2 linked regions of the Homo sapiens genome follow. The protein of the gene in region 1 purifies or fractionates together with the protein of each later gene. This does not show direct contact. Each region holds a gene or a part of one and is shown in the gene's direction. Other genes may lie near its edges.

Region 1 (3,825 bases):
TGCTTATATCTTACAAGGTGGATATATGCTGGCAGCCTCGTATTGGCCAAAGGTAAAGAAATAATTTCTTATTGGGATAGGTCATTTTTTAGTATTTTTCTATATTGCTTCAATGGTAGATATTCTTACTATGTGGAAACATAGGTCAGCGTAAAATGTAGGATGACATTTTGGTGTTAGCTCCAAAAGTATAAATTACTGCTATCAAGTAAATAGTTCTGCTTTAATGTGTATGCTTCTCAACATAACTTTAGAATGTTTAGAATAAAAGATAATGAATCCTTACTTTCAAGTTAATCCTAAAGTGCTTCTTTATGAAACAGGTGCTTTTGACTGAGTCTCCTTGAAGAAGTTTACTGTAGCCAGTTGTGACCTAGAATGAAAAGTTCATTTAAATACATGTACATTCAGTGGAAGAAGAAAGATTGAATTAATACAGATTTTCTTCCTTTTTTTTTGAGTCTCACTCTGTCGCCCAAGCTGGCTTACAGTGGCACAATCTCAGCTCACTGCAACCTCCGCCTCCCAGGTTCATGCAGTTCACCTGCCTCAGCCTCCCAAGTAGCTGAGATTACAGGCACCCACCACCCTACCTGGCTAATTTTTGTATTTTTAGCTGAGACAGGGTTTCACCATGTCGGCCAGGATGGTCTCGAACTCCTGACCTCAAGTGATCCGCTTGCCTCGGCCTCCCAAAGTGCTGAGATTACAGGTGTGAGCCAGTGCACCTGACCAATTTTTCTTCCATTATGTGACTAGACTAGTGCTGGAATACTTACCTTTAAGAATGAGGTTGGGAAATGGGAGAATGGAGGGTTTTCTCCTCTTCTGTGTACGTCTAAGTTGTTTGAACTTATTAGGAGTCTGTATTACTTTTTAATTATAACAGCAAAAATAAAACTATCTTTGTGGTATAATTTTTTGTCTGTTTGTTTGTTTGTGAGACACGGTCTTACTCTGTCACCCAGGCTGGAGTATAGTGGCACAATTTTTTAATTTTTTGCAGAGACAGGGTTTTGCTATGTTTCCCAGGCTGGTCTCAATCTCCTGGCTTCAAGCACTCCTACCACCTTGGCCTCCCAAAGTGCTGGGATTACAGACAGGTGTGAGCCACCACGCCTGCTTATGGTATAATATTTTTGAACTTCACCAAAGGGAATCTGTACTCAAATAACTTGTTGCAGAATTGTAATATATATATACACGAGAATATGTATGCATAGCACATACACATATGTTGAACTAGGGTTAAATCCATAGACTCTTGAGCTATTTGATCTCCAAAGGTCTGATCTAATTATTAAAATTACACTTTGATGTTGCACGCTTTTCTAGGATCGTGTGATGATCAATAGGTTGGACAGTATTTGTCAAACAGTTCTGAAAGGAAAGTGGCCTTCAGCTAGAAGAAGTTATGATGCTAACACAGTGGCTTCTTTCTATACCACAAAACTGCTGGACAGCCCTGGAGCAGCTACAGAATACAGCGATCCCAGTGTACCCACTCCCCCAGGTGCCGGTGTTAAAGAAGAACATGATCAGTCAACACAGATGTCAAAGGTGAAGAAGCATGTACGAGAAAAGGAGTTTACAGTGAAAATCAAAGACGTATGTGTATTTTTATTGCCCTAGGGCCTGATTGCGATTGCGGTGTGCAGCATGCTTTTCCTGCAAATGGCTGCCTGCTCTTACTCTTCCTTCCTTCACATACCTGTTTCTTGGTATTTGGATTATTTTCTTTCTGATATCCAGGTTATTAAACTTGAATATTCTACTAGAGGGATCGTCATTAAATATGTTTTTCTCTTTATGCTTCTGAAAATAGTTCTAATCAAAATGCTTTCTTAAACAGTGTGGCAATTTCTAATTGTTTTGGTTCTTTTATATAGTATTTAAATAGTATGTCAGTGTACTTTCTGTTTTAAACATTTAGCATGCCCTGTTATCAGTATTGTTTCATTTTTAAATGATTTTTGAAGCTTAACTTATTACTTAGTGTCTAAAACATAGTTAATGTCCTCCAAAATGTCATATGAATAATGTACATAGAGATGTATGTCTAAAGTTAAAAATGTTACAGTGTACTAGTAACATCTTGTTTTGGTCAGAAAAGTGTGTAGAGTACTTGTATTTTTTTCATTCAAAATAGAAAATTTGGTGTTATTATAGAAATTGATTTAAAATGTTTTTATTTGACTGATTTATGAATGAGAAATGAACTTCTTTGATGTTTCAGGATTTTTACTTCATTTTTTTTCCTCAGTAAAAAAATTCTCTTAATATCCTGCAATAAGATTTTTTTTAACAGTTTCTGTCTTAATAATGGTATTTGTTTAACAGGAAGGTGGTTTGAAGTTGACATTTCAGAAGCAAGGGCTTGCTCAGAAAAGACCATTTGATGGTGAAGACGGTGCTCTGGGGCAGCAGCAGTACCTCACTCGGCTTCGAGAGCTTCAAAGTGCATCAGAGACCAGCCTCGTCAATTTCCCAAAATCCATACCAGTATCAGGTGAATATGCAAGTAATAATTGTCTTACTATGAAATATTTTCTGTCATGTCCAAATCTTCTTTTATAGATGCTTGTAATAAAAATTTATTTTTCCTTTGTTGGAACCTCTTAAGCCTATAAAGTAATCAATAGAATTTTAAATCTTAACAAATATTTTTTGGAACTTTTAACATGACATTTTAAAGCATAAAGGGCAGTTTTCATTTTGGGGCCTAGAGTAGTTGTGTGGGAACATCATTTTGTCAAGTTGCCTCATACAGGTAAAAGTTCAAACTGCATTTCAGTATCACAAATTAATGGTGATTGGTAGAAGAAATTAAAAAGAGAAGTTTTAGAAAAACTTTAGAGATTGTACAGTCCAGGCATCTTCAGGATACAGGTGTTATCTATGACTAATCCCTAAAAGGTAATTATTCATCCTTAGGGAATACTTACAGAAACAAGGTTCCTTAAATAGCCCTTTTTATTATTGGGCAGCTCAAATTGTCAGAAAATTCCTCTATTTAGAAGTAAATTTTGCCTCCTATAGGTTCTTCTCAATTATCGAAGTTCTGTCTTTAAAAGGCAATGCATAATTAACCTAATCCTGTGTCTACATGATAAATCTTAGCATTTTGAAAGCAATTATCAGATCTCCCCTACAAACTATCTGTCTGTCTTCTAATCTTTTGGCAGTTTGAATCAACACATATTTATTAAATACCTAATTGGTGGTGCCCTGTGCTGTGTACTCCGTAGGCATTGAGGAATGCATTAGACATTGGTTTTAGTTTTTGTTTTGTTTTGGATTTCTGTTGAGATAGTGTCTCACTATGTTGCCTAGGCTGGTCCTAAACTCCTGACCTCAAACGATCCTCCCACCTGGCCTCCCAAAGCTCTGAGATTACAGGCATGAGCCACCACGCCCAGCCTGTTTTTGTTTTATCTTAGTACTTTAATTTATCTGTGTTCCTCTAAAAGTGTGATGTCAAGAATTGAGAATGAAAATTTAAAAAAAAAAGTTGAGAATGGTACTCAAGATTAACTGAGTCTTAATGCGTGGACCACAACATACTGATCTCCTAAAGTACTAGTTGTCAATTCAAGCAAATAAGTGTCTTGAATTTCCCTTCCTTGTGCATAAAGTTAAAGACTGTACTTCAGTATTCTACTAAGTCTAGTTGCCAAGCAATACATGCTGTATTATAAGTGTTGTCTTGAACTGATCACTATTTCCAAATGCTGCTATTACCACTTCTTAAATTATAAATTAGTTTAGCTTCATCAGCATCAGTTTGGTCTCTTGTGGATTCATTAACCATTCAATGTAATTTTC
Region 2 (3,825 bases), on another chromosome or scaffold:
CTCATTTTATACATGTCATTTCAGCCAGCAGGGTGCCTTATGCCTATAATCCCAGCTCTTTGGGAGGCCAAGGTGGGAGGATGGCTTGAGGCCAAGAGTTTGAGACCAGCCTGGGCAATGTAGTGAGATTCTGTCTCTATAGAAAAAGAAAAAAAGATAGATGTTATTTCCTTTGAGCCCCCACATTCCTAGATGAGAAAAACTAGGCTCAGAGAAGTCAAATGACTTGATCAAGTCATATCAGGCACTAAAGCCAGAACTCACACAGAGGCTTTTGATTCCAAAGCACATTCCGCTGTCACAATCAAAGCTCAGTTAAATACACATTCATTTATTAAGCACCTACTTAATAGATTGGGGGTGGGGTGGAGGGAACTGAGGGCATCCATAAGAAGACAGTTGAAAGTCAGTCTGTGGGTTGCAGATGGGGAAGGAAGAAAGTAGAAGAGGTGCCACTGAGAAGCTGCAGGAGCAGACTGGCAACCCCTCTCCCTGCTAAAGAATCCCACCCAGTGTAAGCCAATGGGTAACACCAGCATTCAGGCAACACAGTAGTGAGGGCAGAGCTGTACACAGAGAAACGACCTTACTTAAACCTGTAAACCACCTTGTGGAAAAGACAATCTGTTCATTTCCATTTTAGAGGTAAGAGAAGTGAGATCCTGAATCATTCTGAATCTCCATTATTCTTTATCTCGATTTTTATTATGCCACCTACCTCTTTCACTTTGTATTAAATTTGTATGTATTCATGGCCCATTTCTCACAACAGACTGCACATCCCTCGATTGTAAGGACCAAGTTTACTATTCGTTTTGTTCCTAGCACCCAGCATGGTATGTGGCACATGGTAGACACTTAACATATGTGGAATGAATGAATAAATGAATGAGTAAAAGAATTAGTACCTGAGCAAAAGACCATTGCTGGCCCATTACATCTCAAGGTTGGTGGACGCAGGAACCACCTAAGAGATTCTGGGATTTGTGGATTCTGAAACAGACTCAGATTGTAGGAAATTAATCCCAGGGTGAAAATTATAAAACCAGACTGAATCCTGGAATGCTAGAATATCACTTGCCCAACTCTACCACCCAAGCCAATCTAACTTGGACACACATAGACCAGTGACTAGAAATAGAGATATTACATTACTTTTCTTAGCACTATACCCAAGGAAATTTCCTTCAGTGGTCCCACTTAGAATTCATAGCTTAAAATATATCTTGCATTTATATATGTCATGTCTCACATATTAAGTTTTGAAAATAGCTACAGCATAGCATATAAAATTGCTTTTAACTTAGATCAAAATCAACAAGTTTTTGTTTGTTTTGCTTTTTTGCCTGTTTTTTAAAGATAGGGTCTCATTCTGTCACCCAGGCCGGAGTGCAGTGCTGCGATCATGGCTCACTGCAGCCTCAACCTCCCAGGCTTAAGTGATTTTCCCACCTCAGCCACCTGAGCAGCTGGGACTACAAGTGCAAATGCCACCATGCCTGGTTAATTTTTTTATTTTTATTTTTTGTAGAGATGGATTTCATCATATTGCCCAAGCTGCTCAACAAATATCTACTAAGCACCACTTATATGACTAATAACATGATAGTTGTGCTTTTGAATTCACATGAAAGTGAATTGAAATAATGTACAGATCTGAAATTCCAGGGACTTTAGATGTTTTTCCTCTTTTTAAATCCAGCTGCCTTTCTATGGGTACCAGAAGTCATGTGGATACATCATCTAAAACATCAAACTATTGTTTTCTTAGAGTTAGACAGAACCAGCTGGAGCTGATTAGGGCTTTCCCCACTCAATGGGTCAATGACTGGCCCTGGGCAAGAGTTAACCAAATTCCATGGTCAGAGCTTTCCAGGAGGAGGAGGCAGCTGACTCACAGCCGAAGGCGTGCATGCAGTGGGACATGGTCATAGTTCAAGCTCCTTTGGCTGCTCTGTTTACCCACTTGTTCTACCTCTCGGCTGCCGGTCTGCCTGCTTTCCCCCAGTCGTTGCTTCACTGGTTCCTGGAGAAAGGGGCTAGGTAAATTCTGATTGTTTGCTTTTTTCTTTAAGCTTAGAATCATCTCAACAGCTCACATTGTCTCAACAAATAAGCTTTCATTTTGCCTTTATTTTGGAAGGGTTAGTCATGAACACTGACCATAGGTCATCAGTACAGGCCAAAAAAAAAAGGAGATATTTTACAAAATCTGTTACGTCCCCTCCTGTTACTTCCCACCTTTAATTTGTGTCAAAACATTCACCATTCCATGTCATTCATTGTTGGCTGAGTGCCAGCCCAGGGTAGAGAAATAATAACTGAACAAGCTGTCCAAAGACCTAAATTCAAATTCTGACTCTTCTACTTACTGGTTGTGTGTCCCTGAGGAGATCTCCAAGCCCCTCTGCATCTTGAATTCCTTATCTGGAAAATGGCAAGAAAGCTCACCTTACTGTGTGACTGTGAAGTTGAAATGGTCAAATGCATTAGAATTACGGTGTTGCGTCTGCATGGAACTGAATGCATACTCATTCTTCTTTCTCAAACCTTAGGTCTCCTCTGGAGTTCCTGGTTTAGTTCACTGTCTTTACTTGTATATTCATGAGATAATAAACTCAGCAGGTTAATTTACTTGCCCGAAGTATTTACAATGATTCAGTAGCAGAACAAAGAGGTAATCCACTTGTAACACCCAGGTCGAGGTCTCCGTGTATCTGGTCACTCTGCTGAGGGTGGAGTGGTTAACAGAGCTGCCTGACGAGACAGGTTGGTTCCCAGGACTTCCGTTACCTCCCGAATCTGTGAATTCATGCTTGTTTTCAATCCTTTCCTGACCCTAGGTTTTGGCTCCCAGTCAGTTCCTCGTCACAGTCCCAATAAAAGGCCTGGCCGGGTACAGGGAGGCCAGGGAGCAGCACTGGCGGTACTACACACTGCAGGGCACCAGGCTGCCCTGCCCGTTGCGGGACCCTGAGGGTCTGCAGCAGTGGCTGGAGGTGGAACAGTTTATGAAGAGCCTGTGGCAGTGGCATGAGACAGATGTGAACATCGACGGAGACATTGTGCCTGCCAAGGTCCTCCTAGTGTTCCGGAAGCTGGTGGAAAATGCAGTTAGAACCTGTCACCTCTCAGGTGAGCTGATCAGGAACAAGTGCAAGGGTAATTGCTGGCATTCCCCTTTCACTCTATAAAACCTCTGTTTGGGTGTTACCTGCAGCTCACAGCCTACATTTGAGAAAATAATCATGTGCTCTTCACATTTATTTAATCTTCATAATATGAATCAGCTTTTTTTCCTGCTGTTGATGCACAGAAGATTGGAATTCATACTAACAAAATAGTCTTGTGGCTTTAAGAAAGTTACTGTGCTGGCATAGATATAAAATGCTGTGGATTATGCACCTTAACCAGGCTTAAAAACTTAAGCGTATTGTTTTTTAAAAAAGCAAATTATTCACAAACCCCAGGTCTTCTTTATTAGCACATTTCTACTGCAGCACCTCCATCTGACTGCAGTACCACAGGGTGCTGAGATTCCACATTTGGAAACCACTAACTTGTACCAAAGCACAAAATCCAGGAGCCATAAAGAACTGACTAAGTTTGACAACTCCAAAGTCTTAAGCTACTGTACAGCATATGCATACACACACACACACACACATACACACACACACACACTCCCTTTTTGTTCACACAAAGCGAAAAGGTGAATTTCAAACTGGAAAGAAATGGCTAATTTTCTTAATTTATAAATCAATAAGAAAAAAGATGAGCTGACCAATAGAGATAATTACCAAAAAAAAAAAAGGAATCACAGAA

What was found.
Region 2: the proteins of CHD9 (region 1) and MAB21L3 purify together in Homo sapiens (co-immunoprecipitation; one large-scale study listed by IntAct). This does not show direct contact.

Annotation. Positions count from the first base shown.
Region 1 is NC_000016.10:53,306,346-53,310,170, forward strand, and holds part of CHD9 (chromodomain-helicase-DNA-binding protein 9), read left to right. Parts: coding exon 1-52; intron 53-1,335; coding exon 1,336-1,608; intron 1,609-2,340; coding exon 2,341-2,509; intron 2,510-3,825. UniProt on the Homo sapiens protein: Probable ATP-dependent chromatin-remodeling factor. Acts as a transcriptional coactivator for PPARA and possibly other nuclear receptors. Has DNA-dependent ATPase activity and binds to A/T-rich DNA.
Region 2 is NC_000001.11:116,121,223-116,125,047, forward strand, and holds part of MAB21L3 (protein mab-21-like 3), read left to right. Parts: intron 1-97; exon of another isoform or gene 98-136; intron 137-908; exon of another isoform or gene 909-993; intron 994-2,372; exon of another isoform or gene 2,373-2,843; coding exon 2,844-3,135; intron 3,136-3,825.